7 linked regions of the Homo sapiens genome follow. The protein of the gene in region 5 purifies or fractionates together with the protein of the main gene of each other region. This does not show direct contact. Each region holds a gene or a part of one and is shown on either strand. Other genes may lie near its edges. The genes, in order: RAB21, MYOF, CYRIB, VKORC1L1, SERINC2, CNIH4 and ATP6AP2.

The links.
Region 1: the proteins of SERINC2 (region 5) and RAB21 purify together in Homo sapiens (affinity purification with mass spectrometry; one large-scale study listed by BioGRID and IntAct). This does not show direct contact.
Region 2: the proteins of SERINC2 (region 5) and MYOF purify together in Homo sapiens (affinity purification with mass spectrometry; one large-scale study listed by BioGRID and IntAct). This does not show direct contact.
Region 3: the proteins of SERINC2 (region 5) and CYRIB purify together in Homo sapiens (affinity purification with mass spectrometry; one large-scale study listed by BioGRID and IntAct). This does not show direct contact.
Region 4: the proteins of SERINC2 (region 5) and VKORC1L1 purify together in Homo sapiens (affinity purification with mass spectrometry; one large-scale study listed by BioGRID and IntAct). This does not show direct contact.
Region 6: the proteins of SERINC2 (region 5) and CNIH4 purify together in Homo sapiens (affinity purification with mass spectrometry; one large-scale study listed by BioGRID and IntAct). This does not show direct contact.
Region 7: the proteins of SERINC2 (region 5) and ATP6AP2 purify together in Homo sapiens (affinity purification with mass spectrometry; one large-scale study listed by BioGRID and IntAct). This does not show direct contact.

The regions. Positions count from the first base shown.
Region 1 is NC_000012.12:71,764,377-71,768,735, reverse strand, and holds part of RAB21 (ras-related protein Rab-21), read right to left. Parts: intron 1-4,359. UniProt on the Homo sapiens protein: The small GTPases Rab are key regulators of intracellular membrane trafficking, from the formation of transport vesicles to their fusion with membranes.
Region 2 is NC_000010.11:93,377,592-93,381,950, forward strand, and holds part of MYOF (myoferlin), read right to left. Parts: intron 3,806-4,359; coding exon 3,628-3,805; intron 2,397-3,627; coding exon 2,272-2,396; intron 1-2,271. UniProt on the Homo sapiens protein: Calcium/phospholipid-binding protein that plays a role in the plasmalemma repair mechanism of endothelial cells that permits rapid resealing of membranes disrupted by mechanical stress. Involved in endocytic recycling.
Region 3 is NC_000008.11:129,845,105-129,849,463, forward strand, and holds part of CYRIB (CYFIP-related Rac1 interactor B), read right to left. Parts: intron 4,266-4,359; coding exon 4,139-4,265; intron 1,771-4,138; coding exon 1,700-1,770; intron 1-1,699. UniProt on the Homo sapiens protein: Negatively regulates RAC1 signaling and RAC1-driven cytoskeletal remodeling. Regulates chemotaxis, cell migration and epithelial polarization by controlling the polarity, plasticity, duration and extent of protrusions.
Region 4 is NC_000007.14:65,875,526-65,879,884, reverse strand, and holds part of VKORC1L1 (vitamin K epoxide reductase complex subunit 1-like protein 1), read right to left. Parts: intron 4,064-4,359; coding exon of another isoform or gene 3,916-4,063; intron 1-3,915. UniProt on the Homo sapiens protein: Involved in vitamin K metabolism. Can reduce inactive vitamin K 2,3-epoxide to active vitamin K, and may contribute to vitamin K-mediated protection against oxidative stress.
Region 5 is NC_000001.11:31,432,473-31,435,814, reverse strand, and holds the end of SERINC2 (serine incorporator 2), read right to left. Parts: intron 2,849-3,342; coding exon 2,630-2,848; intron 1,752-2,629; coding exon 1,616-1,751; 3' UTR 1,137-1,615; downstream 1-1,136. UniProt on the Homo sapiens protein: Non-ATP-dependent, non-specific lipid transporter for phosphatidylserine, phosphatidylcholine, and phosphatidylethanolamine. Functions as a scramblase that flips lipids in both directions across the membrane.
Region 6 is NC_000001.11:224,366,506-224,370,864, reverse strand, and holds part of CNIH4 (protein cornichon homolog 4), read right to left. Parts: intron 1-4,359. UniProt on the Homo sapiens protein: Involved in G protein-coupled receptors (GPCRs) trafficking from the endoplasmic reticulum to the cell surface; it promotes the exit of GPCRs from the early secretory pathway, likely through interaction with the COPII machinery.
Region 7 is NC_000023.11:40,590,592-40,594,950, forward strand, and holds part of ATP6AP2 (renin receptor precursor), read left to right. Parts: intron 1-642; coding exon 643-774; intron 775-4,359. UniProt on the Homo sapiens protein: Multifunctional protein which functions as a renin, prorenin cellular receptor and is involved in the assembly of the lysosomal proton-transporting V-type ATPase (V-ATPase) and the acidification of the endo-lysosomal system.

The sequences.
Region 1 (4,359 bases), on a different chromosome or scaffold from region 5:
CCTAAAGAACAACTGTTTGAAGAAACAGGACTACTGACAAGGGAGAATCACTGAATGGTTTCAAGCAATGGGGAAACAGATCTATATTTTAAGAGAATGACCCTGGGATAGGAAGGGAGGTTGGACTAGAAAAGATAGGTAGAAAGAACACTTACAAAATTGGAGAAAAATATAAAAAAGGAGATCTGAACTAAGACCATGAAGATAGGAAAGAAAGAAGAGTATCAAGAGTTACTGAAGACAAAATATATCCAGAATCCAGAGTCAGCTGACGTGTTTAAAAAAAAGGAATAGAGAGCTGAGTTCAGACCTGTATAGAGATAGTCACATTTAGGTGTTATTTATATAGAAGAAAGTGCAAAGAAGGTGAAACAGATAAAAGGTCAGGATGGTGAATTACTGAAGGAAAGAAACAATTGAGATTTCTTTTACCTCAATTTCAGGAAGGTCTTTTTGCTATGGGCACACCACAGAAAATTAGAACTAAGAAAAGGCCACTGGATGTAGTGATTAACCAAGGAGTCTACAGATAAATATAAATGGCAGAGCTGGGTTCAAACCCATGTATGTCTGCCTTCAAGGCCCAAGCTATCCTCAAGATATTTTGTAAATAAAATAAAAATTATACAGAAAAGAAGAAAAATTAAATGCCAAAACAGCAAAGTAACCTGAAAAATGAGAAGACCAAATACATGTTATGACAATAAATGTCTTCTCCCATTCATGCTAGCATAGGAGCTAAGAATATGAACTTTGGAGCAGAACCTGTGGATTTGAATCTCAGCTTTGCCACATACTAGCTGTGTAATTTATTTGAACTCAATCATTTTCATGGTTTCAATATCAATGCCACATGGAAAAAAAACAAAATCTGAATCCTATCCGAATATTTAATGGATAGGTCAATTTAAGTGCCTCTTTTTCAAACACATGTAAGAAAGACTGAACCGATCTTCTCCCCAAAATTGGATTTTCATTCTGACTTTAGTATTTTGATCACATTCGCCTTCTCATTGAAGTTTAGAAACTTGGAAATATCTTCTTAAGCCCTTGTCAGTCTATATGCCTCCAAAATCTACCAAGCCTTGTCTTCACATTTCCTCTGGGGTCTATGACCACCAGTCTCTTATTATATCGTAACATAAATACCTCTGGTTCACCTTACACCCCGCTCTGCATGCCATATTATCTTCCCAAAGCTTCCCTGGTTAAAACAAAAACAAAAACAAAACAAACAAAAAAAACCCCACAACAACAACTTACAACTCATCGAAGGGTTCCCTAACAGGTTATCATTTTTAATAAGTATGCTTGAACATCCCTGCTGACAGCTAATATCATAACCTTTTGGTCATGAGTGTTGTGGAGATTTCTCAGAAGAAGGGAGTGCATCAGAGTTGGTAAAGCTGCCTCATTTCTTTTCTACCATCCCCTCTGAAATTTCCCACCACTCTCCCACGGCAAATTTAAAGGACGGTATTAAGTCTCCATTAAGGAACTATGGATACACAAAAACACTTGTACGGAAAGGGTACACATGACAACACTGATTATATAGAAAAACAAAAACAATGAAATTATCTGTGTTCATTAATAGGTAAGTAGTTAAAAATTCACAAAAATAGCCATCCATGCAGTAAAAACACTACACAGTCATTTCTACTACTGCTGCTAATACTAGCTAACATTTATTAAATGTTTATTTTGTGCCAAGTACTGTGCTATGCACTTTTCACAAAATCATTCATAAGCTGCTTCTTTATAAAAGTTGGGGAGCCCACATTTACAATTAAAAGTCTCAAAGCCTTATCTTTATATCCAAAGACTTCCACAACGTGTCCACATCTATCTTCTTAGGACAGCTTCCAATATTTCTTTACTTATTCTCCAACTTATATGGCTTTTTTGCATCCTCTTCAATTCTTCTGTCCATAAAATTCCACTCTAATTTGAGCCTATTCTCTGTTCTCTATCTGAATTCCACCTATCCAAATATGGCTCTTTTTCCTTGAAATTTCATGTTCTCTTATACTCATGCACGCAATGCACACAAATTTTTCTAGCCTGAAGAATTTTAGGGAATCAACTCTGCATTTACTGCAGCTTATACTGTCTTATACTATAAATTATCTTTTCATGGGTATAAGTATTCTGTTAACTAGACTACATATTTTTATTTAACGTTTCTACAGCACTTACAATGAAATGGGCAGTGTTCTAAGAGCTTCTCAAATATTAATTCACTTAATTCTCAGGTGCCAATAACACCCTGTGAGTCAGAGATAATTGTTACCCATGTATTACAGATGTGGAAAATGAGGCATAAGGAGGGTAAATATCTTGCCCAAGGTCACACAGTAAGTGACACAGTGCCACTTGAAATCCCAGGCAGTTTGGCTCCAGATATTAATTATAACTACTATGCTACGATACTTCTCAGACTGAGATCTGAGCTCTCTAACACTTCCACTCTTGTGGAAGAAGTGGGTGGAAGTCATAGTACCCTGCCCATAATTGACAATCAAATACTGTTATTATAGATAAGCACATCTACAATATGCCCAGGTAAATCAATGCAGGTATAACTCAATTTAGTAGGAGATATGCTCCTAAGTTTCCTTCTTAATCAAATTATTTTAACTCATATATATGATGCACTAGTAAAGCATATTATCAAAGGATCCCTAGTAAATATTTTTTTCCTTCATAATGAAAAACTTAAGCCCTGCTCTATGGAAAGATTCTGTTTCGTAAATCATCTCATTTGATATAAATCCTAAGTTTTTAATATTTTATAGACATTTTCTTCAAGGGAGAACTCTTTTTAAAAAACTTTAGAAAACTTTTTTAAAAAATAAAATTATGAATATATTTAAGAAGAAAGCTGAAACATCAAGATAGCAACAAACAGGTATAAAAATAGGCACGTAGACCAATGGAACAATAGAGAACGCAGAAATAAAGCCAAATACTTACACTTACCTGATCTTCGACAAAGCATATAAAAACAGAAATTTGGGAAAAGATAGCCTATTTAACAAAAGGTGCTAGGAAAACTGGCAAGCCACATGTAGAAGAATGAAATTGGATCCTCATCTCTCACCTTATACAAAAATCAACTCAAGATGGATCAAAGACTTAAATCTAAGAACTGAAACCATAAAAATTCTAGGGGATAACATTGGAAAAACTCTTCTAGACATTGGCTTAGAGAAAGAATTCATGACTAACACCCCAAAAGCAAATGCAACAAAAACAAAAATGAATAAATGGTACCTAATTAAACTGAAACGCTTCTGCACAGCAAAATAAATACTCAGCAGAGTAAACAGACAACCCAGAGTGGAAGAAAATGTTCGTAAACTAAGCATCCAACAAAAGACTAATATCCAGAATCTACAAGGAACTCAAACATATCAGCAAGAAAAAAACAACCCCATCAAAAAGTGGGCAAAGGACATGAAAAGACAATTCTCAAAAGAAGATATACAAACAGCCAACAAACGTATGAAGAAATGCTCAACATGACTAATTATCAGGGAAATGCAAATTAAAATCACAATGACATACCCCTTACTCCTACAAGAATGACCATAATTAGTCAAAATAACAATAGATGTTGGTGTGGATGTGATGAAACGGGAACACTTTTACACTGCTGGTGGGAACGTAAACTAGAACAACCACTAAAGAAAACAGTATGGAGATTACTTACAGAACTAAAAGCATTATAGATCTATCATTTGATCCAGCAATCCCACTACTGAGTATTTACCCAAAGGAAAAGAAGTTGTCATATGAAAAAGACACATGCACACATGTTTACTGCAGCACAATTCACAACTGCAAAGATATGGAGCCAACCTGAGTGTCCATCAACCAACAAGTGAATAAAGAATATGCGGTATATATACGCCATAGAATACTACTCAGCCATAAAAAGGAATGAAATAATGTCTTTTACAGCAACTTGGATGGAGCTGGAGGCCATTATTCTAAGTGAAGTAGCTCAAGAATGGAAAACCAAATATTGTACGTTCTCACTTATAAGTGAGAGCTAAGCTATGAGGATGCAAAGGTGTAAGAAATGATATAATGGAATTTGGGTACTCAAGGAGGAAGGTTTGGAGGAGGGTATGGGATAAAAGACTACATATTGAATATGGTGTACACTGCTCAGGTGCACCAAAATCTCAGAAATCACCACTAAAGAACTTATCCATGTAGCAAAAAAACACCTATACCCCAAAAACTATTGAAATAAAAATAAAAATTTATAAAAAAAGATAGCAGCAAACAATCAAAAGGCTGAAATTTGTCTTTTCTTTTTTAACCACCTCTACTAGGCACATTTAATTT
Region 2 (4,359 bases), on a different chromosome or scaffold from region 5:
ATAACCAGAAATAAAACAGATCTAATTACATTTCAGATGAATAACATAATTACACTAAACTAACCCAAGTAACTTTTGGAACACAGTATTTTGACTATGTACACTTTGTTAAAAGGCAGAAAAAAAAAACCCATAAACATATTGAACTCTAATTAGTAGGCTTATTTTTCACAGTGGTTTATCTACAGATTTTAGGATTGAACCAAGGAGTAAATATATTGAGGATAACAAAGGCCAGATTTCTCACTGTTGGAGAAGAAAGTTAGAGACATAGAAATACAGAGGACTAGGATAAACCTTGTGGTATTGGACTGGAATTGGAAGTATCTTTATGAAGTCATAGCTTTTAATATATTGATAGATATAGAAATAAATAGACATACATGTGTCTGTGCAAATTCGTTTGCTGAGAAGGCCTAGAAGCAATGATATTTCAGTAGTAGTGAGCACTGTATACCCAGATTTTGTTTCTAAAATGCTATTCCCCACTCAAAGGAAAAAGCTGCTTGGAGAAATAGCGATTTACGGACTGGGGCAGAGAAAGTACAAGATAAGCTCAAAACATATGGTTCTATTCCATTGAGCACCTGCCAACAGAGAAGTTGAGGAAGAGCCTACCATGACTGTCAAAAGTCCTAATCAGGGAAAAGGGAAAGCCACCATCCTGTCCAGATTAGGCAGCCTGGTCAGTGGAGAGAGCTGATAAGAAGAACCAGGATGAAAATTGCTGAAGAGCATCTCAAACACAATTAGAACACAGGTGCAACTAATTCTCCACAAATGCCTTTGAGATGTACATTGCCTATCAATTGCAACTTTATTTTCAGGACAGTTATGATTAAGTCAATTTAAACCTATAGTTATCCTCCCAGATTGCCTTTATAACATAAAATGATATTTCAGATTTTGCCGTCGAGTTTTAGATCAAGTATACTCCTGAAACCCCATATGTTTTGGTCCAGCCCTGGTAGAGATTAGATCTTTAAAAAATTAATATTAACATAATGTTGAAATCAAAACACCAATGCCAGATGGATTTTAGCACTACCTGATAGGAGTAACTTAGTATATGTGTATATGTGTGTGTGTATGTGTGTGTGTGTATATATATATATATATATATATGTATATATTTATCTTTTTAGACAGAGTCTCAATTTGTCCAGGCTGGAGTGCAATGGCGCCATCTTGGCTCACTGCAACCTCCGTCTCCCGGGTTCAAGTGATTCTCCTGTCTCAGCCACCCTAGTAGCTGGGATTATAGGCTCACATCACCATGCCCAGGTAATTTCTTTTGTATTTTTAGTAGAGACAGGGTTTCACCATGCTGGCCAGGCTGGTCTCTAACTCCTGATCTCAAATGATCTGCCCACCTTGGTATCCCAAAGTGCTGGGATTACTGGCGTGAGCCACTGCACCTGGCCCAAGTAACTTAGTATTTTTGCTTAATTAGAAATATCACAGACATATCCCCCTTCTCCTCACCAATCTAGTTGACCAATGTCAACTAGACAGATAATCACAGATATCATATGTATGCAGTTTTCACCCAAGGAAATCCCCAACCTCCAAACAAAAGAAGTTCCTCTAGTCTGCAGCAAGAGTGGAATGTGTCAGACACTGGTTCCTCAAAGCTACCTCTTCCTGCAGTGGAGATTTCCACTGCAAAGTTCTCAGAGTTTCATATTGCTATTGGAATGAACCATTCTCTCTACACAAAAATTACGGCAGAAACTATGAGTTCCTGTTCCACCCCACTCCTACCTTTTTAATCCTCCCCTCTTCCAAAGTAAGAAAATTTTTATCTGGGCATATGCCTGCCCAGGCATAAGACTAACATTTTCCACCTTCGTTGGAGTCACATGTGGCTGTATGACTGGATTCTGGCCAGTGGAAAGTGAGTAGAAATTAAGAGTATGACTTCTGCATCCTTCCCTTCAAGAGAAAGGCCTATGTCATCTTCTCCCCACTGTTTACCAGCCCTCCCCTCAGGCTGGAGGGCAGATGTAGTAGTGAGCTGCCTCTACCATGCAGACAATGATAACTCCTGAGTGATGGCAGAGCAACCGGGGGTAAGAGCCTGGGTCTCCAATACCACTGAACCTCCATACTAACTTAGGACCATCTACCTCCACTGTTCCTAGAGACATTGCTCTTACCTTATTGATCACTGTACTAAGCACTTTCTTGTGTTATAGTGGCCTGGCCTCCATCCTAATACCTAATTCACCCTGCTTGGTGAAAAGGAAATGCAGAAAAAGAGAAACTTACCAGCCGTTCTGCCATAGCTAGGAGAGTGTTCACCGCATCCAGGCGATGACTAATATCCTCCCAGTATGAAGTCAGGGTAACAACTGGCTTGGTGTGGGCCCAAGGCAAGTAATAATAGTAGTTGCCTGGTATAAAACATTGGGGGTCAATGAACACTGAACACTTAAAATAGACAGCATGTTTATTAAAGAGATGTGCAGACTGAGCTGCTGATTAATCCACAGGCTTGGGGAATAGCTTGAGGTGGTCTGGTTCTTTAATTTGACTCAATTAAGCAACTGAAGACTAGGAAGCTCTTTTTCATTCAGGCTGTTCTGAAATTTTCTCTGAGACACCCTAGTAAACTGAGCACAGCAATCTCAGGATCGTTTAGTGATTCAGGGCCATGCATCTGAACATCAAAGATGGTTTCTTAACGTGGTAGTAGAAAATACAGATGACATAGGAAGCTAGACTGAACATGTTAGTCCCTAAAAACTGTTATTCTAAATAAATGTTTTTGTTGGAACTGGGGCAAAAGAAAAGAATTTTCTGTTCTTGGAAAGCTTTAGCTGGCTACATAGGGTTTGGTACTAGAGCCTTACTGTGATTAAGAATTATTAGCTGATGTTTCCTAGGATGTCTTACATTTTAAAACTGCTTGTACAAAAATTAAGTTAAAACTCTGGCAATACTGTTGGGAAATTTGATCAGTATTCCTCTCTCCCTTCTCTGTACTCTCAAACCATTTGTTGACAGTTTTATTGGAAGTTCTCATACTTTGCTTTCTATTATGATTTATTTTATACACTAGAATGTAAGCTCCTTAAAATCAGGGACTGTTTCTCACCCATCTTTGTTCAAATACAGCTATTTAATCCTCATGTCAACTCCAGAGAAGACGAAGAAACTGAGGGTTAGAATTCAGTGACACGGTTAAGGTCACAAGCTGGTGAGTAACAGAGTGAAGACCAGAAGCATGATTTCCCAGTAGCTGATCCAGAGTCCCATTCATTTTCCACTACTCAGCCTAAGAAAGATTTGGGGCTTCGTAGGGGTAGGAGCTGCTTTGCGGAGCTCAGAACTTAGCACAGTGGCTACCTTGGGGTCTTACATGGCAAAACCATTGTTAAAGCTGGGTGGGGAGAGGGTAGCATTGGGGTTCAGCCTCTGGCAATGGGACCTGCAACTTCTTGGGTCTGGCCAGTCTTTAAGGTGCCTGAACCCCAACCACACTCTCTTCCTCATTCAACCTTTTCCTTTCCACTAACCATAGGCTGCGTAGAACAGTGCCAGAGGGAAGACACAGTGCTTGCTTCCGGTCCCGTGGTGCACCCATTGTAAACGTGTGGAGAGAACTGTTAGTGCCAATCTTACCATCAAATACAGCACGGCTGTACTGAGTTGTTGATGCCAAAGGCTTACAGGTGGTGTCAAACTTGTTGCCATAGTTCCCAATGCTGACTTCAAACTGAATGGCCTCACCAACATCTTGCAACATGGTGGCTGAATGAAACACGGCAGACAGGCTGTACTTCCGCCTTCGCTGGTATTTCTATAAAGTATGAGCAGACATAAGGTTCAGTGAAAGGCCATTTGTTCTTATTTACATGTGGATTTCTAGGAGACGCAATTCTACACCTAATAATTAGTGCTGAATTAAATGACAGGGGAGAATGTTCTTGGACCCAGCTGTTCCTCTTGCACTCATACAAGTGAGCAAAGATAGAAGCACTAGGATGTTCCTGGCAGCATTGATTGAAATGGAGGGGAAGAAATGAAAACAGTACACAAGTCTTTCAGTAGACCACTTGTTAAACAAGTTATGTTATATCCATAAAATAGAATGAAGGTTCATAAAAAGACTTAATTAGGTCCATATGTGCAACCATGAAAAAAGAGTATATTTTTTGGGCTGGGTACGGTGGCTCATGCCTGTAATCCCATCACTTTGGGAGCCCGAGGTGGTTGGATCACTTGAGGTCAGGAGTTCAAGACCAGCCTGGCCAACATGGTGAAACCCTGTCTCTACTAAAAATACAAAAATTAGCTGGGCGTGGTGGTGCACACCTGTAATCTCAGCTACTCGGGAGGCTGAGGCACGAGAAT
Region 3 (4,359 bases), on a different chromosome or scaffold from region 5:
CCCTGTCTTTCACTCGCCATCACTGGTCTCCTCTGCTTTCATTCTAAGGAAAAGGAAACTGAACTACCCTTAAAGTGAAACGTAGATTCTGAGTTAGGCATACTACCTTCAAGCTCAAGAAAGAATCCTAAAACCTCCTAGATCTCAATTACCTTCAAGTTTTTAAAAAAGATTTCCTGCCACTTGCTGGCTTCAAAGAGCCTGACCAATCAGAAAGACAAAGTCTTGGGAGAAAAATCAGGTTGACTGAGACACAGGGAGTATTCAGAAAGAAACCAAGGAGGAAAGACTCATGATATCATTAAATATTGGCAAAACCACTGAAGTATGCGTTGTAAAAACCCCAAGAATACAGAATTCTAAAAACTAGGCTTATGGTTAAAATAGTTTGACATTATAAGGATTTTAAATTATGTTCCTTAATCTTGCTGATGTTCATTTAGAATAGATCACCTTTATTCAGGCAGCTACCGCTTATGCAACACTTTTCATAATCTTTTAAAAACTATTTTTAAACATTTTTTCATAATCTTAATAAAATCATTTGACAGTTCCGCTTAGCTGAAATGATACAGCCTACATTTTATGTGGTAAATATCATTATATAAATATTTCTGTGTTCATGTAATTTTTGTGTTTAAACCCTCAAAAAATCAAGTAATGGGACATCATCTTTTATGTCATGTGAATACTACCAATTAAATCTCTGTAGTCAAATGTTATAAAGTATCGAGATTTTCATTTAAAAATGTTCTAGCAGCTGGGCACAGTGGCTCATGCTGTAATCTCAGCACTCTGGGAGGCCAAGGTGGGTGGATCACTTGAGGTCAGGAGTTTGAGACCAGCCTGGCCAACATGGTGAAACGCTGTCTTTACTAAAAATACAAAATACAGGCACATGCCTGTGATCCCAGCTACTCGGGAGGCTGAGGCAGGAGAAGCACTTGAACCTGGGAGGCCGAGGTTCCAATAAGCCAAGATTGTGCCACTGTACTCTAGCCTGGGTGACAGAGCGAGATTCCAACTCTAAATAACGAAATAATGTTCTAGCATTTGTAGAAGTTTGAGCAACTAAATTAAGTAAAACTAATCTAAGAAAAGACATTAAATAATGACTACTTAATTTTTATTGTAGGAAATACATAAAAATAACAGAACACAAGTCTGAGCACAAATGTAATTACATTCTATTAAGAGGAAAGAGCTAGTTACAAGCCACTTTGTAAGATATTATTTTGTAAAAAGATAACTACTACATAGAGCTATTATCTATATATGTAAAGAAAAAACTCTGGAAGGCTATATGCTAATAGTGGCTTATCTCAAAATGGTGAGATTACATTATTTCTTTTTATTTACATTTTCTTATGTTTTCTGAATTTTATTTATAACTGGTATATAATACTTTTATTACAAAAACAAGCAATCTCTGTTTGAAGAGAAGCAACAAGTAAAAGCCAAAATCTTCAACCAGAAAATGAAGCTGCTATTGTCATGTGTCCCACACATTCCTCATCATAAAATACCGTAACCAGTGTTTGGAAGCAAGATTATCAATAAACAAAATAAGATCTTCATATTTCTAGCTTGAACACTTATTTTTATATCCTATTCACACTTAATGCATTTTCTTTACATAAACATCGACCATTTTCCTTACAGATTTTTTCTGTACATACGTACACGTACATATACACACCTGAGAGCATTTAGAAGACCTTCCACACTATTAGGAGGTTGGTCCTTAAGAACTTTGATACAACCTTTCATCTAAAGAAAAAGAAAACAGAAAAGGTAAAACAGCCATTTTTTTCATGTAACATTCCTTTTCAAAATAGTAAAATAAATCAAGACCATAACTATGGAACTCAAGAGATTACATACTATGTCAAATTAATTATTCTTAGAACAGAAAAAAACCCAACCTAAGAGTTATTATTCTCACTTAGTGAAAACAAAATCTTTTTGAGAACAAAATCAGTCAAACTAATATACCACACATGCAATGAAAAACAAACGGTTTGCTAAGGGAAGACTTCTGGAAAAGGTGCTGAGTGGCGATTTAAAGGACAGAATGGGCTGGGCAGGGTGGCTCAGGCCTGTAATTCCAACACTTTGGGAGGCTGAGGCGGGCGGATCACAAGGTCAGGAGTTCGAGACCATCCTGCCTAACACGGTAAAACCCCGTCTCTACTAAAAATACAAAAAAATTAGCCAGGCGTGGTGGTGGGCGCCTGTAGTCCCAGCTACTCGGGAGGCTGAGGCAGGAGAATGGCGTGAACCCAGGAGGCAGAGCTTGCAGTGAGCCGAGATCGCACTACTGCACTCCAGCCTGGGTGACAGAGCGAGACTCCGTCACAAAAAATAAAATAAAATAAAAAATAAAGGACAGAATGAGTATGTTACTAAGGAAAAGAAGAACTTTCAGGTAGAGAAACCTCACAGAGTAAAGTATCACACAGAGGACAGATAGGAATTTTTCAGCACTGCACCTGGAGTTATGAGAGGCTGAAAGCCAGGATGAGTTATACGAAGTGTTATGCCTGGCAGCAGGGGACTCACAGGTTATTTTAAAAGGTAACCACTTGATGACGATGGTATTTAAGATATATTAGCCTGGTTGTTATAAAAAAGCATAATACAGCAGAAAGAACACAGGCTTTGGAAGCCAGAGAAATGTGGGTTCTACCTTTTCTAGCAACTCTTTTTATTTTTGAGATGGAGTCTCGCTCTGTCACCCAGGCTGGAGTGTAGTGGCGCAATCTTGGTTCACTGCAACCTCTGCCTCCTGGATTTAAGCGATTCTCCCACCTCAGCCTCCCGAGTAGCTGGGACTACAGATGTGTGCCACCACACCCAGCTAATTTTTGTATTTTTTTTCAGTAGAGATGAGGTTTCACCATGTTGGCCAGGCTGGTCTTGAACTCCTAACCTTAGGTGATCCGCCTGCCTCGGCCTGCCAAAGTGCTGGGATTACAGGCATAAACCACTGCACCCGGCCTACTAGCAATTCTATTACTTGATCTGCTAAACTTTAGTTGCCCTGTCAGTAAAGGGAGATGACACCTAAAAGAGTATTTTCAGAGTCACAAGGGAGAACAAACGTAAAATTCCTGGGACATGGCAACCATACAGTAAATATTAACTCATTTCTCTTTACATATGACAGGTGTACATGAAGGCAACAAGCTTGGCTAGTAATCAGTAATCGAGATCCGAAATGCTAAGAGCCTAAACTAGCTATGAAAGGGAAACGGGAAGACAATTCTCACCAAACACTAATGAACTAGATGTGAGAGGTTGGGGAAAGAAACTACGAAGTAGAGAAATTAGAAAACTATTTCTAATACAAACTTTTACAGAGAGAAGAAAAGTCGAGAGCCAACTATAGTCACAAATTATTATGACTAGGTAGGGGAGGGAAAATACATAAAGTCTTCATCTTTTTCCACTGGAGCATCCTACTGGCTGTCTTTTTAATTTCAAGACAGGGTCTCTCTCTCACCCAGACTGAATGCAGTGGTGTGATCGTGGCTCACTGCAGGCTGGAACTCCTGGGCTCAAGGGATCCTCCCACTTCAGCCTCTCAACGTAGCTGTGACTACCGATGTGTGCCACCACACCTGGCTAATTTTTTTTTTTTTTTTGTAGAAATGGGGGTCTCACTATGCTGCCCAGGCTGGTCTTCTACTCCTGGGCTCAAGTGATCCTCCTGCTTCAGCCTGCCAAAGTGCTTGGGCTACAGGCATGAGCCAGCACGCCCAGCAGCACTACTGACTTTTTATATGCATTCTGAAATAAACATTTTATTTGAAATGGCCTTTGGCCAAAGGAATTAAAGGATATGACTCAAAATTCCTTATATCTAATTATCTATTTATATTGCCAAATACGTAGTAGAAGCCTTCCAGGAGGTACTCACTAGACAATATAGTCATCCTTTGATCATTCTATTCCACCTGAATACAGGCCACAAGAAAAACAGCACAGGGACAGAGGAGATGAAAGTCCACCATTTCACAAACTATAAATCTGAGTTTTGTGAGAGTCCGGTTTGCTGGCTCTTATCATAAAATAAAATCCTATGGTTTCCATGGAGAAACTCGTTTGAAATTATTTATATAAAACAATAACTTACATCAATTTTGGAAGTTTTAGCAAATGCTCCCACTGGATGTACGTGGTCATAGAGTATTATGACACCCACCATTACCCTCAAGCAGAATGACACTGTCTCTTCATTTGTAAATCTGCTTCTGTATTCCCTGAAGAGTAGATAAGATATGCATGGAAGAAGTGCATTACAAAATTCTTTTTAAAAACACACACACACAAGAAAAACCTCTTCTGAAATATTTT
Region 4 (4,359 bases), on a different chromosome or scaffold from region 5:
GTGAGACAATGTCTCAAAAAGTTAAAGAAGAAAGAAAAGAAAGGAAAGAAAAAAAAAGGAAAGGAAAGAAAAAGAAAAGGAAAGAAGGAAGCAAGGAACGAAGGAGGAAGGAAGAAGGAAAAATAAAGAAAAGGAAGGAAGGAAGGAAAAAGAAAGAAAAGAAGGAAGGAAAAGAAAGAGAGAAAAGAAAGGAAAGGAAGAAGGAGGGTGGGAGGGAAAGGAAGAAAGGAAGACGAAAGAGTAGTGGTAAAGAGCTTGGACTCTTGAGCCAGACTGCCTGGGTTAGAATCAGGCCTCTGCCACTGTACTACCTGGATCAAGTGTTAGTCTGCGTTGCTCAGTTTTCTCATGTGTAAAATGGTGATAAAAGCTACCTGCCTCATGGGACTCTTGAGAGACTTCAATAATGTATGCAAAACATTTAGAACACTGCCTAGCACATAGTAAGCATTATCTGTAAGTATTAACATTTATCTCTACTACAGTCCAGATTCACTTCCTTGTGATATTTCTCTATTCCTCTTGGACTCTTTTCAGTTCAACCTGCTTCTGAAATTTCCATACCAAGAAACAATGATAATGTTAAGAATTTTATTTCTGAAATTTATCTTGGTTAGTCAAAACTACTAGAACAAATTCTCTTTTACGTACTAGCAGTTATTAACATTTCACTAAATATGAACATAAGCATTTAAAGTATGGGAGCAATGGAACGAATGCCAAGCAAAAAGCAGGCTATCAATAAGGATGCATACGTGATACTTCCATGTTAAAAAAAGGGAGGAATCATATGGTCACGTGGATGTTTGTCTATGTGTCAAACGGCTCTGAAAAGTTTCACAGCGGTCTACTGAGCGGGAGAACTGTCTGGTGGAAGGGATATGAAGGAGACTTTTCACTGTACATGCTTTGTTATCTTTCAAATCCGAAGCAGCGAATGCCTTACCTAGACAAGAATTTAATTTTTCTTTTTTTTTGAGACAGAGTCTCACTCTGTCACCCAGTCTGGAGTGCAGTGGCACGACCTCAGCTCACCACAACCTCCACCTCCCGGGTTCAAGTGATTCTCCTGCCTCAGCCCCTCTCAAGTAGCTGGGACTACAGGCGTGTGCCACCATGTCTGGCTAATTTTTTTTGTATTTTTAGTAGAGACGGGGTTTCACCATGTTAGCCAGGATGGTCTTGATCTCCCGACCTCGTGATCCGCCCACCTCGGCCTCCCAAAGTGCTGAGATTACAGGCGTGAGCCACTGCGTCCAGCCAAGAATTTAATTTTTAAAATGGGGGTGCAAAGGGGACTTTAAATAAGTACTCTGGAAGCCAGGTGTCAAGTCTCAATTTGCTACTACCTGTGCTATCTTGGGCAAGTCACTTAACCTCTGAGTCTCAGACAAAGCAAAGAGCAGTAAATACTTCTAGGTTCTTTTTTTTTTTTGTAAGACAGAGTTTCCCTCTTATTGCCCAGGCAGGAGGGCAGTGGCACAATCTCGGCTTACTGCTACCTCCACCTCCCGGGTTCAAGTGATTCTCCTGCCTCAGCCTCCCGAGTAGCTGGAATTACAGGTGCCCACCACCATGCCCGGCTAATTTTTTGTATTTTTAGTAGACAAGGGGTTTCACCATATTGGCCAGGCTGGTCTCAAACTCCTGAACTCAGGTGATCCACCCACCTCAGCCTCCCAAAGTGCTGGGATTACAGGCGTGAACCACTATGCCCAGCCCTAGGTTCTATTCTAATTCTAAAAGTTTTATTATCTCAATGGGGTAGTAAATAGATGGTACTTTTTTTTTAAGATATGGGAGAGGTAGTAATCCGACATTTTGTAAAATAAGGCAACTTTTTTATGGACTTGATTTTCAAATGCAGTGGACCCTTGAACAACACGGGTTTAAGCTGTGTGTGCTCACTTATACGTGGATCTTTTTCAACCAAATGCAGACCGAAACCTGCATATATGGAGGCCCAAATTTTCACATTCAGGTTCTGCAGGGCCCACAGTGGGGACTTGAGTATGCCAGGATCTCAGTAAAAACAGGGGTCCTGAAACCAATCCCCTATGGTATATGTTCTATACATAGACCATAGGACAACCAGACTATTTTTACAGTTTTAAGAAACATAGATTTGTCAAGCCTATTAACCTTTCCAGATCATTTGTACTATTCTTACATAGAAACCCTTCTTAGAGGGGGTCTTATATATAGAAAATACCTACATAGAATATTCTGCATATTACAGCTGGACACGGTGGCTGATGCCTATAATCTCAGCACTTTCGGAGGCTGAGGCAGGCAGATCACCTGAGGTCAGGAGTTTAAGACCAGCCTGGCCAACATGGCAAGACCCTGTCTCTACTAAAAATACAAAAATTAGCCGGGCATGGTGGTGGGCACCTGTAATCCCAGCTCCTTGGGAGGCTGAGGTAGGAGAATCGCTTGAACCCGGGAGGTGGAGGTTGCAGTGAGCTGAGATCATGCCACTGCACTCCAGTCCGGGTGACAGAGCAGCGAGACTCCATCAAAAAAAAAAAAAAGAATATTCTGCATTAGTTTCTCTTGCACAACTTCAAAATTGTTTTAAATGAACACATCTTTATACTATGCTATAAAGTCAGCAATAAACTACATTAAAACAATTAATGTTTAAACATATAAACAAGTATGTACAAGAAACTTATACTTAAAGGCATTTATTATCAAACACTGGAAAAAAAAGAACATCTCCAATCAATGGTAACAGCTATAACTGAGGACAGGCTTTATTTCAGGAACATACATGTATCACTTTTCATCGTAACACTAATCTGGCAAAGTAGGTTTTTTTGTTTTTCTTTTTTTGAGACAGGGTCTCTCTCTACCACCCAGGCTGGAGTGCAGTGGCACCATCATGGCTCACTGCAGACCTCAGCCTCTCAGGCTCAAGTGATCCTCACACCTCAGCCTCCCAAGAAGCTGGAAATACAGGCATGCGCCACCATGCCCGGTTAACGTTTGTATTTTTTGTAAAGACACGGTTTTGCCCTGTTGCCCAGGCTGGTCTGAAACTCCTGAGCTCAAGAGGTCTGCCAGGTGTCAGCGTCCCAAACTGCTGGGATTACAGGTGTGAGCCACTGCACCAGGCCCTAAGTAGGTGTTAAAAGCCCTATTTAACATAAGAAACTGAGGCACCATGAAGATAAGGCCACAAGCCTAAGAACTGGGAGAGGTGGAAGCCCACCCAGATCCCTTAGATTTGAGCTCAGTGTACCAAACCAAGGGGGCAGGGACTGCTAACTGAATGTTAGCTGGCAGGCTGGTGCAGGTTTGCAGCAGAGTTTTCACCGATTTATGGGAAAATGGGAAAAAGTAAGGACACGAAAGTAAACTTTTTTTTTTTTTTTTTAAAGACAGAGTCTCGTTCTGTCACACAGGCTGGAGTGCAATGGCGCGATCTTGGCTTACTGCAACCTCTGCATCCCAGGTTCAAGTGATTCTCCTGCCTCAGCCTCCCGAGTAGCTGGGATTACAGGTGCATGCTACCACGCCCAGCTTGTTTTGTATTTTTAGTAGAGACGGGGTTTCAGCATGTTGGCCAGGCTGGTCTGAAAGTAAACTTTTCCATATAGCTAAATGATTCCATTTAAAAATATTTTATTCTGAGAGATTCTGTTCTTTCAAATTGTTTGAATGGAAATATCCTTTTGTTAAATGAAATGATGGTGACAGGAGATAGTGGTGTGTTATTGTTTTTACTGGCTGTACATGGTAGAATTGAAAAATCAGCATTTCTATTGTAGCCTACTAATTTCGGTGAAATATTTCTTTAGAAATATAAAATCTGGAACTTTCCATCATTATGCCTCCCCAAAATAATAGAGGACTTTACACACAGATAACACCTGCCTCTCAAGATTCTCTCATTAATCTCTACCTTACCGTGTTTGGATTAAGACACAGGGCTTGCGAAATGAGAATAAAGTGAGTTTGAGCAATCCAAAACCACGTGCTGACTCTGGATCCTGGAAGATGATTTTCTTCAGAATCTTTGTCTGTTAACTTTCCTCTGGGCTCAAACTTTCTTTTCCTAAAAGAGTCACATATTTGAGTACTACTGCTACATGGCAATCACCACTCAAAAAAAACTAACTTGAGGTGTCCAATAATCAGCTTTCATTTAAAGTCTGTTTCAGGCTAGGCGCGGTGGCTCACGTCTGTAATCCCAGCACTTTGGGAGGCCGAGGAGGGCGGATCACGAGGTCAGGAGATCGAGACCATCCTGGCTAACATGGTGAAACCCCGTCTCTACCAAAAATACAAAAAATTAGCAGGGCGTTGTGGCGGGCGCCTGTAGTCCCAGCTACTCAGGAGGCTGAGGCAGGA
Region 5 (3,342 bases):
TGTCTCCAAGCTCATACTAACCTCGCCACCCCACCCCTCTCTGTGCCCTGGCCATCTTGGCTTCTCCCTGGTCCTTGAACCCCACACCCTCCGACTCCTGTGTTGTCCCCCTGCCCTCAGTGCTGTGGCTCCTCTTGGCCCAGCTGACTCCTACACATCCTCCAGATGCCTGTCCTGCCTCCTCGGTGACCCCACAGGTCCCCGTGCAGCCCCACTAGTCACTCACCCCAGAACCCAGGAGAGCCTTAGAGACAGGCTGTGTCCCCAGCACCCATCCCCAGCACCTTCATACCTATTTTTTATCCCCACAAATGGAAGGGATGAATGGCCTGCAGTCCATCATCGTAACAAGACCAGGCCTTGGGGCCCTAGCCAGGAGCCTGTCAGTCTCCCTCACATCTCTCTGCCCTTGTGAGATGGGGGCTGATGTTATTTCTCAAGAACTCGCTGTGCCAGGCAGATTGCATGGGCTGCTTCCTCTGATCCTCACAACAGCCTAGGAGGGGTGGCATTGTTCCCATTGAATGAATGAGGAACCAGGGCCCAGAGAAGAGAAGGACCCATCCGGAGCCGGACAGCAGCCCCGCGGCTGCCGTGGTACGGAGGGATCTGGGCCAGCCTGGCTGACTCAAGAGCACATGCTCCTCCCCACAGCACCCCGAGGCCTGGGGCTTGACTGGTCAGGGCAGGTACCAACGGTGGTAACAATTCCAGGCAGGTCAGAGGTGGGCAGGACCTTGAGGCAGGCCCTGATGAGAGGGGACCTGAAGACCACCTTCTGGCCCTGTCATCGCCCCCTCCTCCCCACCGTGACTCTCTTTCACTGCCCTCCCTCGGATGGTTGGATGGTCGGGCAGCCTCCTGCTGGCCCCACTGCCTCTAGGGTCTCCTTTTCTGACCACCAGACACACCCTACTTTCCCAAAACCCTGGTCTGCCCCTCCTTCCTCATTGGCCCCCTCCCCTCAGGCGCTCCATGACCCAGAAGACAGAACTCAGGCCATTCTGTCTGCCTTTGAGGCTCCTCCTGGTCTGGCCCTGATGTCCCAGCCTCCTCAGCCCTAACATTCTATTCCCAAACCCCACACCGGCCCCCATGCAGTGGGGCTCCGTGCTGAGGGTGAGGGGCACAGAACATGGTACACGCACTGGCTTGTTTATTAGAAAAAGTCTTAGAGACTCAGTAAGGCACGAAGTCCAGGAAGTGGGCAGGGTCCCCTGGGGGACGTGACCAGGAACACCAGGGCTTCAGTGCCGGATGCCCCACTGTGGTGGGAGTTCCCCGCTCTCTCCAGCAGCCCCGCTCCCGTGGAGCCTGAGGACAAGGGAGCCCTTTCATCCGAGATGCTGAGTATGGGCAACAGGGAGGAGGGGAAGGAAGAGGCAGCTCCACCGTGTGGGTGTGGCGGGGGGATGGGGCTCTGCAGGAGCCTGATGCTCCTCGGACCCTGAAGGCACTACGACTAGAAGGCCCGGCTCAGGGGCAGGTCCTGGAGCTGGGGCAGGGGTGGGGGCTCAGCCTGGCTGATTGGTGTGGGGAGGGGGCAGGTTGGCTGTCACTGAGCCGAGAGGCACCAGGTGGCAGGAGGCACCAGATGGCAGGCTGTGAGGCTGCCTCAGCTGAAGTCGCGGTTGCGCAGGAGGAGTGGGGCTACCAGGGTCCACAGGTAGAGGAGCAGCCCTGCCCAGCTGGCACAGATCTTCACCCACACGGCGGTCCACGTGCTGATCATCTTCCGGGTCTCACCGGGCCTGGAACACACCATCTTCCCCATGAGCCTGGTGCCCAGTCTGGTGACTTCCATCTTGGCCCCTGGCCTTATGTCCCAGTTATGACCCCTGACTTCAACTCTGGCTCTTACCCTGTAACTCCAGTCCATCTCTGACATTTTTAACACCCGGCCTTGTGACCGTGGACATAGCTCCTGACCTCGATTCCCATCTTGAGCCCAGTGTTAGTCCATGAGATCATGACCTGACTCCTGGTCTCCAACCTTGTGATCCTAATTCTGGGACCTCAATCCTAGCCTCTGAACTTGGGACCCTGGAGCTCCTGACCTTAGTCCTGACCGCTACCCTTGATTCTGACCTTTGATCCTGTAACTTAGGGGTGGCCCCTGACCTTATTACTGTCATTTAGCTCCTTGACCTTGCCACTTCAATCCTGGCTTTATGACCTCCTACTCTCAATTTTAACTTTAACCAAATGACCAAATTTGTGACACTAAATGACCACAATCCCAGCCCCAGACCTCATGACTTCTATCCTTGACCTTGTAACTTTGGTTCTGCACTCCACACCCTGATCCTAACCCTCCAACCATGAAGCCCAAATCTGACCCCATGACCCCTGATTTGTAAACCCCGCCTGCCCTGTACAGGTCCAGCCCCAGCTGCTGTGCCTTCCCCGGTTCAGTCTCCTAGTGAAGGTGCGGGAGCTGAGCAGATGAAGGCACTGTTGGGGAAACTGTAGCAGGGAAGGGGCAGGCTCTATGGAGGGTCCTTGATACACACCGCCACCCCCAAGCCTTAAGCAGACATCAGGAAAACCCAGTGAAGGGCCGCAGGAGAGATGTGTGGACCTGCACCCTGCACCTCCGGGCTCTGTCCATGCCCCACCAGCTACGCACTTGTACCAGTTGGTGAGCGTCATCATGACGTGCAGTGAGGCCAGCACCAGGCAGAAGTGGAAGAAGGAGTAGCTGTAGGTGACGCCGTCCTGCTCGTTGTCAAAGGCCCGGCCCTCACAGGCTGCCACCTGCTGCTGCTGCTGTGTGGCGTCTAGCATAGGTGGGCACTCCTCGGTCTGCATCAGGCTGTTCACCTGCCGGTGGTCTGAGGAGCGCAGACTGCAGGGGAGGGAGGAAGGTGGGCAAATAGATAGCTCTGGCGTTGCTCATAACACTGGACACAAATGGTCCCAGAGCCTCAGAGGCCAGCGACCCGGTTACTGGGCCTGGGAGTTAACAAACTGCTTTGCCTCTCAACTCTACCCCTACCCCCACTCCCATTTTCTGTGTGACCTTGAGCAAAACACTTAACCTCTCTGAGCCTCTGATTCCTTGTCTGTAAAATAAGGGATAATCGTACCTCCTCTAGAGGGCTGCTGGGGGGACTAGACGGAATAATGATGTAAGGTCTCTAGCATAGTGCTTGGCACAGAATATAAATTCAATCAACAGTCACTATTGTTAGGATTGTTCCTTTGCCATTTCCATAAACACGTATCGAGTACCTAATACTACAAAGTACCATACCAGGTACTACATCCATTAAGAATGTTAATAATTAATCACGCTCATTTGCCATTGATTTTAAGTTTCCATTTTATTAGTGTCAGGTG
Region 6 (4,359 bases), about 190 Mb from region 5:
ATAGCAGCCTTAAATTCATACCACATATGTACAGAGTAGTATGATAATGTCATGGGCTGCCACTTAGTTTCCTTTTGAAAGTTATAATACTGTTAATCTTCTGCCCTGTAAAATAAATACAGTAACATTCCAGAAAAGGATATTTTATGCACTGAAACCCTTTTACTCATCTGTAGAAAACTACCATACCAGTCACATCTACAGCCCTTTTCCATTAGACAAAGGTTAAAGAAGGCTTCAAACCCAAACCAATTTTATTAAGTTCTTAGAAACTTCATTATGGAAACAGGGAAATTAAGGAAGTTAGGTTACTTTGAGAGGATCAATGAATTTAAGTGTCTGGGCTTCAACATCCAGACTGTGTCATCTGTGTAACATATATGTCCTAACCTAGCACTGTCCATGAATTCTTCCTGCTCTCACGTCTAAGCTTCTTCTAGTACAACCTTAGTTGTCACACAGCTTCTCAATTATCACTTCTTTGAAATGCAAAGGACTCTCTGAGTTCCACAAATCTGAAATTCTCCCTTAAAACCCCAGTAGCCCGACTATAGCTGAATAGAGGGTATTTTCATTTGAATATCCAGATAACATCTCATCCTTGTCTAATTTCTAGGTTATCTAATAAGAGTGTCACCATTTTCTTGGTGGTCCTTAAAAACTTCCTCTTACCCAACTGGGACTTCTCTCTTCCTCATCTTTCATAGCCAGTCCATCAAACCCTTGTCCAGTCTTTCTTCCTACCACCACTTACTTAGCTGTCTTTTTTTTCCTTTTTGTATTTTTGTTTTATTTTTAATTTTTGTGGGTACACAGTAGGTATATATATTTATGGGTTATATGAGAGATTTTGATACAGGCATGCAATGTGTACTAATCCCATCAGGGTAAGGCTGGGCACAGTGGCTCACACCTGTAATCCCAGCACTCCAGGAGGCCGAGGCGGGAGGATTGCCTGAGGTTGAGTTCAAGACCAACCTGACCAACATGGAGAAATCCCATTGCTACTAAAAATACAAAATTAGCCAGGCGTGGTGGCGCATGCCTGTAATCCCACCTACTCAGGAGGCTGAGGCAGGAGAATCGCTTGGACCCGGGAGACGGAGGTTGCAATGAGCCAAGATTGCGGTATCACACTCCAGCCTGGGCAACAAGAGCAAACCTCCGTCTCAAAAAAAAAAAAAAAAAATCACATCAGGGTAAACGGGGTATCCATTACCTCAAGCATTTATCCTTTGTGTTACAAACGATCCAGTTATACTTTTTTAGTTTATTATTATTATTATTTTTAGACGTAATCTCGCTCTGTTGCCCAGGCTGGAGTGTAGTGGCAAGATCTCGGCTCAGCGCAACCTCCTCCTCCTGGATTCAAGCAATTCTCCTGCCTCAGGCTGCGGAGTAGCTGGGATTACAGGTGCCCAACACCACCATGCCCAGCTAATTTTTGTATTTTTAGTAGAGATGGGGTCTCCCCGTGTTGGCCAAGATGGTCCTGAACTCCTGACCTCAGGTGATCCTCCCACCTCGGCCTCCCAAAGTGCTGGGATTACAGAAGTGAGCCACTGCGCTCATCTCTAAAACACACAGGAATAATTTAAAACAGGACTATATAAGGCTTCCAGTGTCTGACAGCCAATCTTTCATATTAATTCTTACTTCCAGTGCGTTATAACTAGAAGACTGATACAACTTTACCATAATAGACCATTCAGCATACTGGAGAATGAGCATCACACCTAAATTACTTATTGCCAAGAAAGATCAGCACAATTTGGATAAAAGTAGCTGAGAGCTGTGGTATGATTCCCCAAAGACCATGAGTGGGATGGTCGCTGAGGCACATATATTAATGCTTATAACAGGCAGGGGAACTCTACAGCTGTATACTACTAGGGCAGGAAAAAAATATCAAAGACAGTTTTTGGTATTTTTTTGATATCAAAAAAAAAAAAAAGACACACACAGTAAAAAGTGTTGGCAAGGATGTAGAGAAAATGGAACCCCCAATACACAGTTGATGGGAATGTCAAATAGTGCAGCTGTGGCTGGGCACACTGGCTCACACCTGTAATCCCAACACGTTGGGTGGCTGAGGTGGGAGGATCGCTTGAGCCCAGGAGGTCGAGGCTGTAGTAAGCAAACATCACGCCACTGCACTCCAACCTAGGCAACAGAGTGAGACTCTATCTCGAAAAAAAAAAAAGTGCAGCTGCTTCTGAAAACACTCAGGCAGTCCCTCAAAAGGTTAAATATAGAGTTACTATATGACTCAGTGATTCCACTCCTAGGTATTTTGCCTCTTTGTCCTGTGGACTACTGTACTTCATCTCCAACAGCATAAAGTATAGTGGTCTGAAAATAGCAAATAATCTATCTGTTGATTTTTTAAACCTTTTTAAATAGAAGGTAAACTTGTGACCAGCAGACAGCCAACCTGTCACTGCAGTTACCAGGGCAATAAATATACATGATCTTTGTCTTTATTTTATAATTATATTTAAAAAAGAATCTCCAGTGTTTCTGTTTGTTTTTTTGAGGCTGGGTCTCGCTCTGTTTCCCGGCTGGAGTGCAGTGGTGCAATCTCGGCTCACTGCAACCTCCGCCTCCCAGATTCAAGTGATTCTCCTGCCTCAGCCTCCCAAGTAGCTGGGACTACAAGCGCATGCCACCACGCCCAGCTAATTTTTGTATTTTTAGTAGAGATGCAGTTTCTCCACGTTAGCCAGGGCTGGTCTCGAACTCCTGACCTCAGGTAATCCACCCACCTCAGCCTCTTAAAGTGCTGGGATTATAGGCATGGGCCACCACGCCCGGCCTAAAAAAAGAATCTTTGGACTTGACTTCATAGAACCTTTTACCACTATCTACAAAGAAGCCATGCCAAAGCTGGCTCTTCTAGCAGGTTTTCATTTCTAGTAGAGATGACTGACAGTATGGTCTGGTATAACATTAAGATCCTCATTCTCAAAGATTCGAGTCCCCATTCTCACTCCCAAAGTTGTGTTTCACTTAAGTGAAACTACAGGTAGACTTAGCTGTGCTAAAAGTCTGTCTGGGACTAGCCCGCAGCAGAAGTGCAAGTAATCTGTGTTCCCAGCTCAGAGCTCACTTTAGGGCGTTGGTCTATGGAACTGATCATGGGAGAGTACTACTAAGCTTGAAAGAGGCCAGGTGCGGTGGTGTGCACCTGCAGTCCCAACTGCCCAGGAGGCTGAGGTGGGAAGATCGCTTCAGCCCAGGAGTTCAAGGCTGTAGTGCACTATATCACACCTGTGAATAGCCATTGCATTCCAGCCTGAGCAACACAGCAAGACTTCATCTCTTAAAAAAAAAAAAAAAATTCAGAACCCATGTTCAGTATATTAAAAAATGAAAAAGAAAACAAAAAATTCGACCCCAGGGTACCCACCCTCTAGAAAAGAGACACAGATATTTTAAAGCTTTTCCCTCACTCAGATTCTAGTTTCATGACCTTTATAAAATCATTCCCCCATATCCACTCCTTCCCTCACCTCTACTGCTGCCATTATCTTTTCATGTGCATCCCATCTTCCTCCAAACCCTACTTTATTTTTTTCTGTTCTTTTTATTCTAACTGCACTTTACAACATCATACTTAAAAAACAGCCAATGAATGGTCCTGTCCCAAAAAACTAGACATAAATAAAAATGAAATAAAACCTAAAAATGTAGTAGAGCAGCAACCCACTAATATAACAATTACAGGCTTGTCAAGATTATCCCAGCGGTCTTCACAAGAAAGTATGCTATGTCTAATAACCCAACTATAAAATTATATACTTCAGGGTTTCCATTGAGCTCATTTTGAACAAACTTCCTAAATTTATTAAATAAAAAATTTTGATTAGTTACCTAATTTGCAGCTTTTTTTTTTTTTTTCTTGAGACGGAGTCTCGCTCTGTCGCCCAGGCTGGTTGCAGTGGCGTGACCTCAGCTCACTTCAAGCTCCGCCTCCCGGCTTCACGCCATTCTCCCACCTCAGCCTCCCAAGTAGCTGGGACTACAGGTGCACGCCACCATGCCTGGCTAATTTTTTTTTTTATTTTTAGTAGAGATGGGGTTTCACCGTGTTAGCCAGGATGGTCTCGATCTCCTGACCTCAAGTGATCCACCCACCTCAGCCTCCCAAAGTGCTGGGATTACAGGCGTGAGCCACTGTACCCAGCCCTAATTTGCAGCTTTTAAACGTACTTCCAGCCCGGCGCTGTGGCTCACACCTGTAATCCCAGCACTTTGAGAGGCTAAGGTGGGCGGATCACTTGAGGTCAGGAGTTTGAGACCAGCCTGACCAACATGGTGAAACCCTGTCTACTAAAAATACAAAAATTAGCCAGGCAC
Region 7 (4,359 bases), on a different chromosome or scaffold from region 5:
TGGTCTTGAACTCCTGGACACAAGGAATCTACCTGCTTCAGCCTCCCAAAGTGCTGAGATGACAGGCGTGAACACCACACCTGACCATCTAGTTCTTTACAACCTTAAACTTGACTACTGATGGCTATTAAAATAACTGAGAAATAATTATTAGTAAACTAATGATAGTTACTTTTAGTAGGAATTGTTTTATTTATAAAGATCTTAGTCTAAAGAGGATGTTTTAATGACCATCTTGCTATGTCTCTGTGAAAGATAAAAGTGATGCTGTATATGAGGGCAAAAAATGATGTGGGGGAAGAAAATTTCCATGGCTACATGAAGAAAATATTTTGTGATCTGAAATTTGAAAGGTACCTATGTTTTGTTTACTTGCTTGCTTTTTTCCACAAAAGGTGTCAGATGACTTACTATTGGACTTTATTTCAAATCTGTAAAATTTTAAGAAAATGAAGAGGGTAGAAATCAGCATTCTTGATTAGGGGATTGCAACGACTGCCACAAATAAAATGTTTACTTTCCCTGTGAATTTTCCTTGTCAGTGTCATCTCAGAACCCCTTAACTCTGCTTATTAGATGTTATTGGGGAGGTGGGTTCCTGAGTTGATAATTAAGCACCGCTTTGTGCTTTTCAATGTTTAGGACCTTTCTTGGCCAGGACTCGCAGTGGGTAACCTGTTTCATCGTCCTCGGGCTACCGTCATGGTGATGGTGAAGGGAGTGAACAAACTGGCTCTACCCCCAGGCAGTGTCATTTCGTACCCTTTGGAGAATGTGAGTATTTATTATAAAAAATTAAAGGGATGCATTTTACATTTTCCCTTGTCAGCTGTCATTATGAATTGCATTCTAAACATACTTCTCTTATCTGTTTTTGATGCACAGTTTCTTTTGAAATTCTTTGACAAACACAATTTCTTTTTAAGAAAATTACATGATGATTGTAATTAACTGAGGCTTGGCTGTTCTCTGTGGATGAGAGTACTGTTTAAGATAAGAGATAGAGAAATTGCCCCACTCAGAATAGCCAGAGGCTTGAAAAAGAGAGCCACTAAAGGAGAAACCAGTTGGGGTTGTATCCTGCTACTGTTTTTTTGGCCATTGTCTTGTCATCTTCCCTGCAGGATTTTACCTCTTTTCGTGTGTAAGGACACTGGAGGCTGCTTGCTGGCTCACTTACTCCTTCACTGGCTATTCAGGCAATGTGGGTGACTGTGCTGATCTAAGAGGCCCTCCTTCCATTATAAGCATATAGAAGTGCTTGAAAGAATGTCACAAAAAACATTTTTACTAGCATAACTAAATTTGAATGCAAGAGGGGGTGATATACACAGGTGTTACATATGGATGGAAAACTCAGAAGCCATAGTGGTGAGCAGAAGCTGACGCTGAAACTGTGTTTCCTGCAGAAAGCCAGGGACTAGAAATGCTGTCAACTTGTTCTTGAAAAGCAGACTAGTAAAACTAGTAAAGCTGGCTTGCTGCCCTTGGCTGTTGGACCCAAAGAGTCCCCTGAGATAAATTAGAATTAGAATTATAGGCTTATGCTGTGCAGAGTGGTTCTTTGCAAATTCACATGACCTGCCCCATAGGGACATCTCCATAGCCAAGGGCTCCTTTGGTCAAATACGGAAGATGAGTGGAATTTACAAAGCACCTGAAGGAAAAAAAATGCCATGAGAAACAGGTGCAACAAACAGAATTCATCTCCTTAGAACTACGGAGAATAGGCCAATTTCCAAGAGATCTAAAAATACATACATTAAAATTGTGAAAAAAAGGGCCAGGCATGGTGGCTCACGCCTGTAATCCCAGCTTTGGGAGGCCAAGATGGGAGGATTGCTTGAGGCCAGGAGTTTGAGACCAGCTTGGTCAACATAGCAAGACCCTATCTCTAGGGGGAAAAAAAAAGAAAGAAAGAGAAAAAATTTGTGAAAAAAAGGAAGGAACAGAAACTATGAGGGAGTTATAAGACATTTTTGATACATGGTGCTTTAGCTGATACTTCAAAATATTTCATAATTTATATTGTGATTCTTTAACCCATGAGTTATGTAGAAGTATTTTTTCCAAATGCATGGGTTTTAAAAAAGTAATTTCTAATTTTTAAATTTCTAAGTTCACTGCATTGTAATACTGTGGTCTATGTGATGCTGAAGTTTTGGGATTTTTTTTTTTTTCAGACTTTCCTGTGGTCGAGTATAGATTATTTCCAAGTACACATGGCATACTTAGAAAAAATTACTGTGCAGTAGTCCACAAGGCAAATCTCAACAAACAATAAAGAATCAGTGTCATATAAACTAACTTCTCTGACCACAATGCAGTTAAATCTGAAAATAATAATAAAATGATATCTTAAAAGGGTATTTGGAGCCCGGCACCATGGCTCACGCCTGTAATCCCAACACTTTGAGAGGCCAAGGCGGGTGAATCACTTGAGGCGAGGAGTCCGAGACCAGCCTGGCCAACATGGCTAAACCCTGTCTCTACTGAAAATACAAAAATTAGCCAGGCGTGGTGGCACGCATCTGTAGTCCCAGCTACTCAGTGGCTGAGGCACGAGAATTACTTGAAACTGGGAGGTGGAGGTTGCAGTGAGCTGGGATTGCGCCACTGCACTCCAGCCTGGGTGACAGAGCGAGACTCCATCTGGGAAAAAAAAAAAGGTATTTGGATCAACATTTCTCCTTTCCCCATCCACCCGTCTCCCCCAGCGTCTTCTAACCATCATTCTACTCTACTTCTATGAGTTCAACTTACAAGTGAGGTCATGTAGTATTTGTCCTTCTATGCCTGGCTTACTTCACTTAACATAATGTCCTCCAGGTTTATCCATGTTGCAAATGACAGTTTCCCGCGCTTTAAAGGCTGTATAGTATTCCATTATGTTTATATACCACATTTTCTTTCTGCTTTTTTCTTTTTTTTTTGAGACAGAATCTTGCTCTGTCGCCCAGGTTGGAGTGCAGTGGCGCAATGTCATCTCACTGCAACTTCTGCCTCCTGGGTTCAAGGGATTCTGGTGTCTCAGCCTCCTGAGTAGCTGGGATTACAGGTGCATGCCACCACGCCCAGCTAATTTTTTGTATTTTTAGTAGAGATGAGGTTTCATCATGTTGGCCAGGCTGGTCTCGAACTCCTGAGCTCAGGTGATCCACCCACCTCAGCCTCCCAGTGGATCTCAGTGCTGGGATTACAGGTGTGAGCCACTGCACCCAGCTGCACATTATCTTTATCCATTCGTTTGATTATGGACACCGAGGTTGCTTCCATCCATATCTTAGAAATTGTAAATAGTGCTGCAGTGAACATGGGAGTGCAGATATCTCTTCAGCATACTGACTTCAATTGCTTTGGATATATATACCCAGAAGTGGGCTTGCTGGATCATGCTTTAGTGATCTATTGCACAAAATGGTGACTATATTAAATAATAATGCATTGTGTATTTCAAAATTGCTAAAGGAGTAGATTTTAGATACTTTTACCACAAAAAAAATATAAGTATGTGAGGTGATGGATTTGTTCATTAGCCTGATTTAATCAGTCTACTTTGTAAACTTATAACAAAACATAACATTGTACCCCATAAATATATACAGTTACTATTTGTCAGTTAAAAATAAAATAAAAAGTATTTGGAAATAGTAACAAACAGAAGATAACAACTCCTCAGATTTAAAGCATATGGAACACCCAGTAGGCAAAAGCCAGATCCACACCTACATACGGTGAAATTGAAGAGTCATCAAGGAAATGGAAAATCTTAAAAGCTGTGAGGGAGAAAAGACACTGTCATTACAAAGGAATGAGAGTAGAAGGAAAGCAAGGAAAATGTAGTGATTGTGTAGTATGAGCTAGGCTGAGTATTATTTGCATTGTCATAATAATGAAATGATGCTGATCAAGTGAAAATTTTGATATAACTATTGGGTAAGAGTGGGGAGATAGAAACAGAAGCAGAGCGCATGGATGGCTCAGCGCATGGATGGGGCAGTGGTTGGTGATGTGAGAGAGCTAAAGCCTCATTTTCTATAATGGATAGTAAATAGACAAGACCTAAAATTGAAAAATCAGGAGATGTAATTTAAGTGTCTTATTTAGAGATGTTAAAAGCAAAAAAAGTCAACAAGAAAAGATAGTTGGAATAGATGCACTCCTAAATAATTCATGGGTTGAGGAGGAAATCACTGTGGAACTTTTTAAATTATTTGGAACTGAGTAACAATGAATGTAGCATTTATTTACAAAATTGGGAGGTGCAGCTAACGTGGTAAGAAAAGGGAAATTTATAGCCTTAAATGCATGTTTTAGACAATTTAGGTTGTCTAAGAATGGAAATTAATGAGCTAAAGA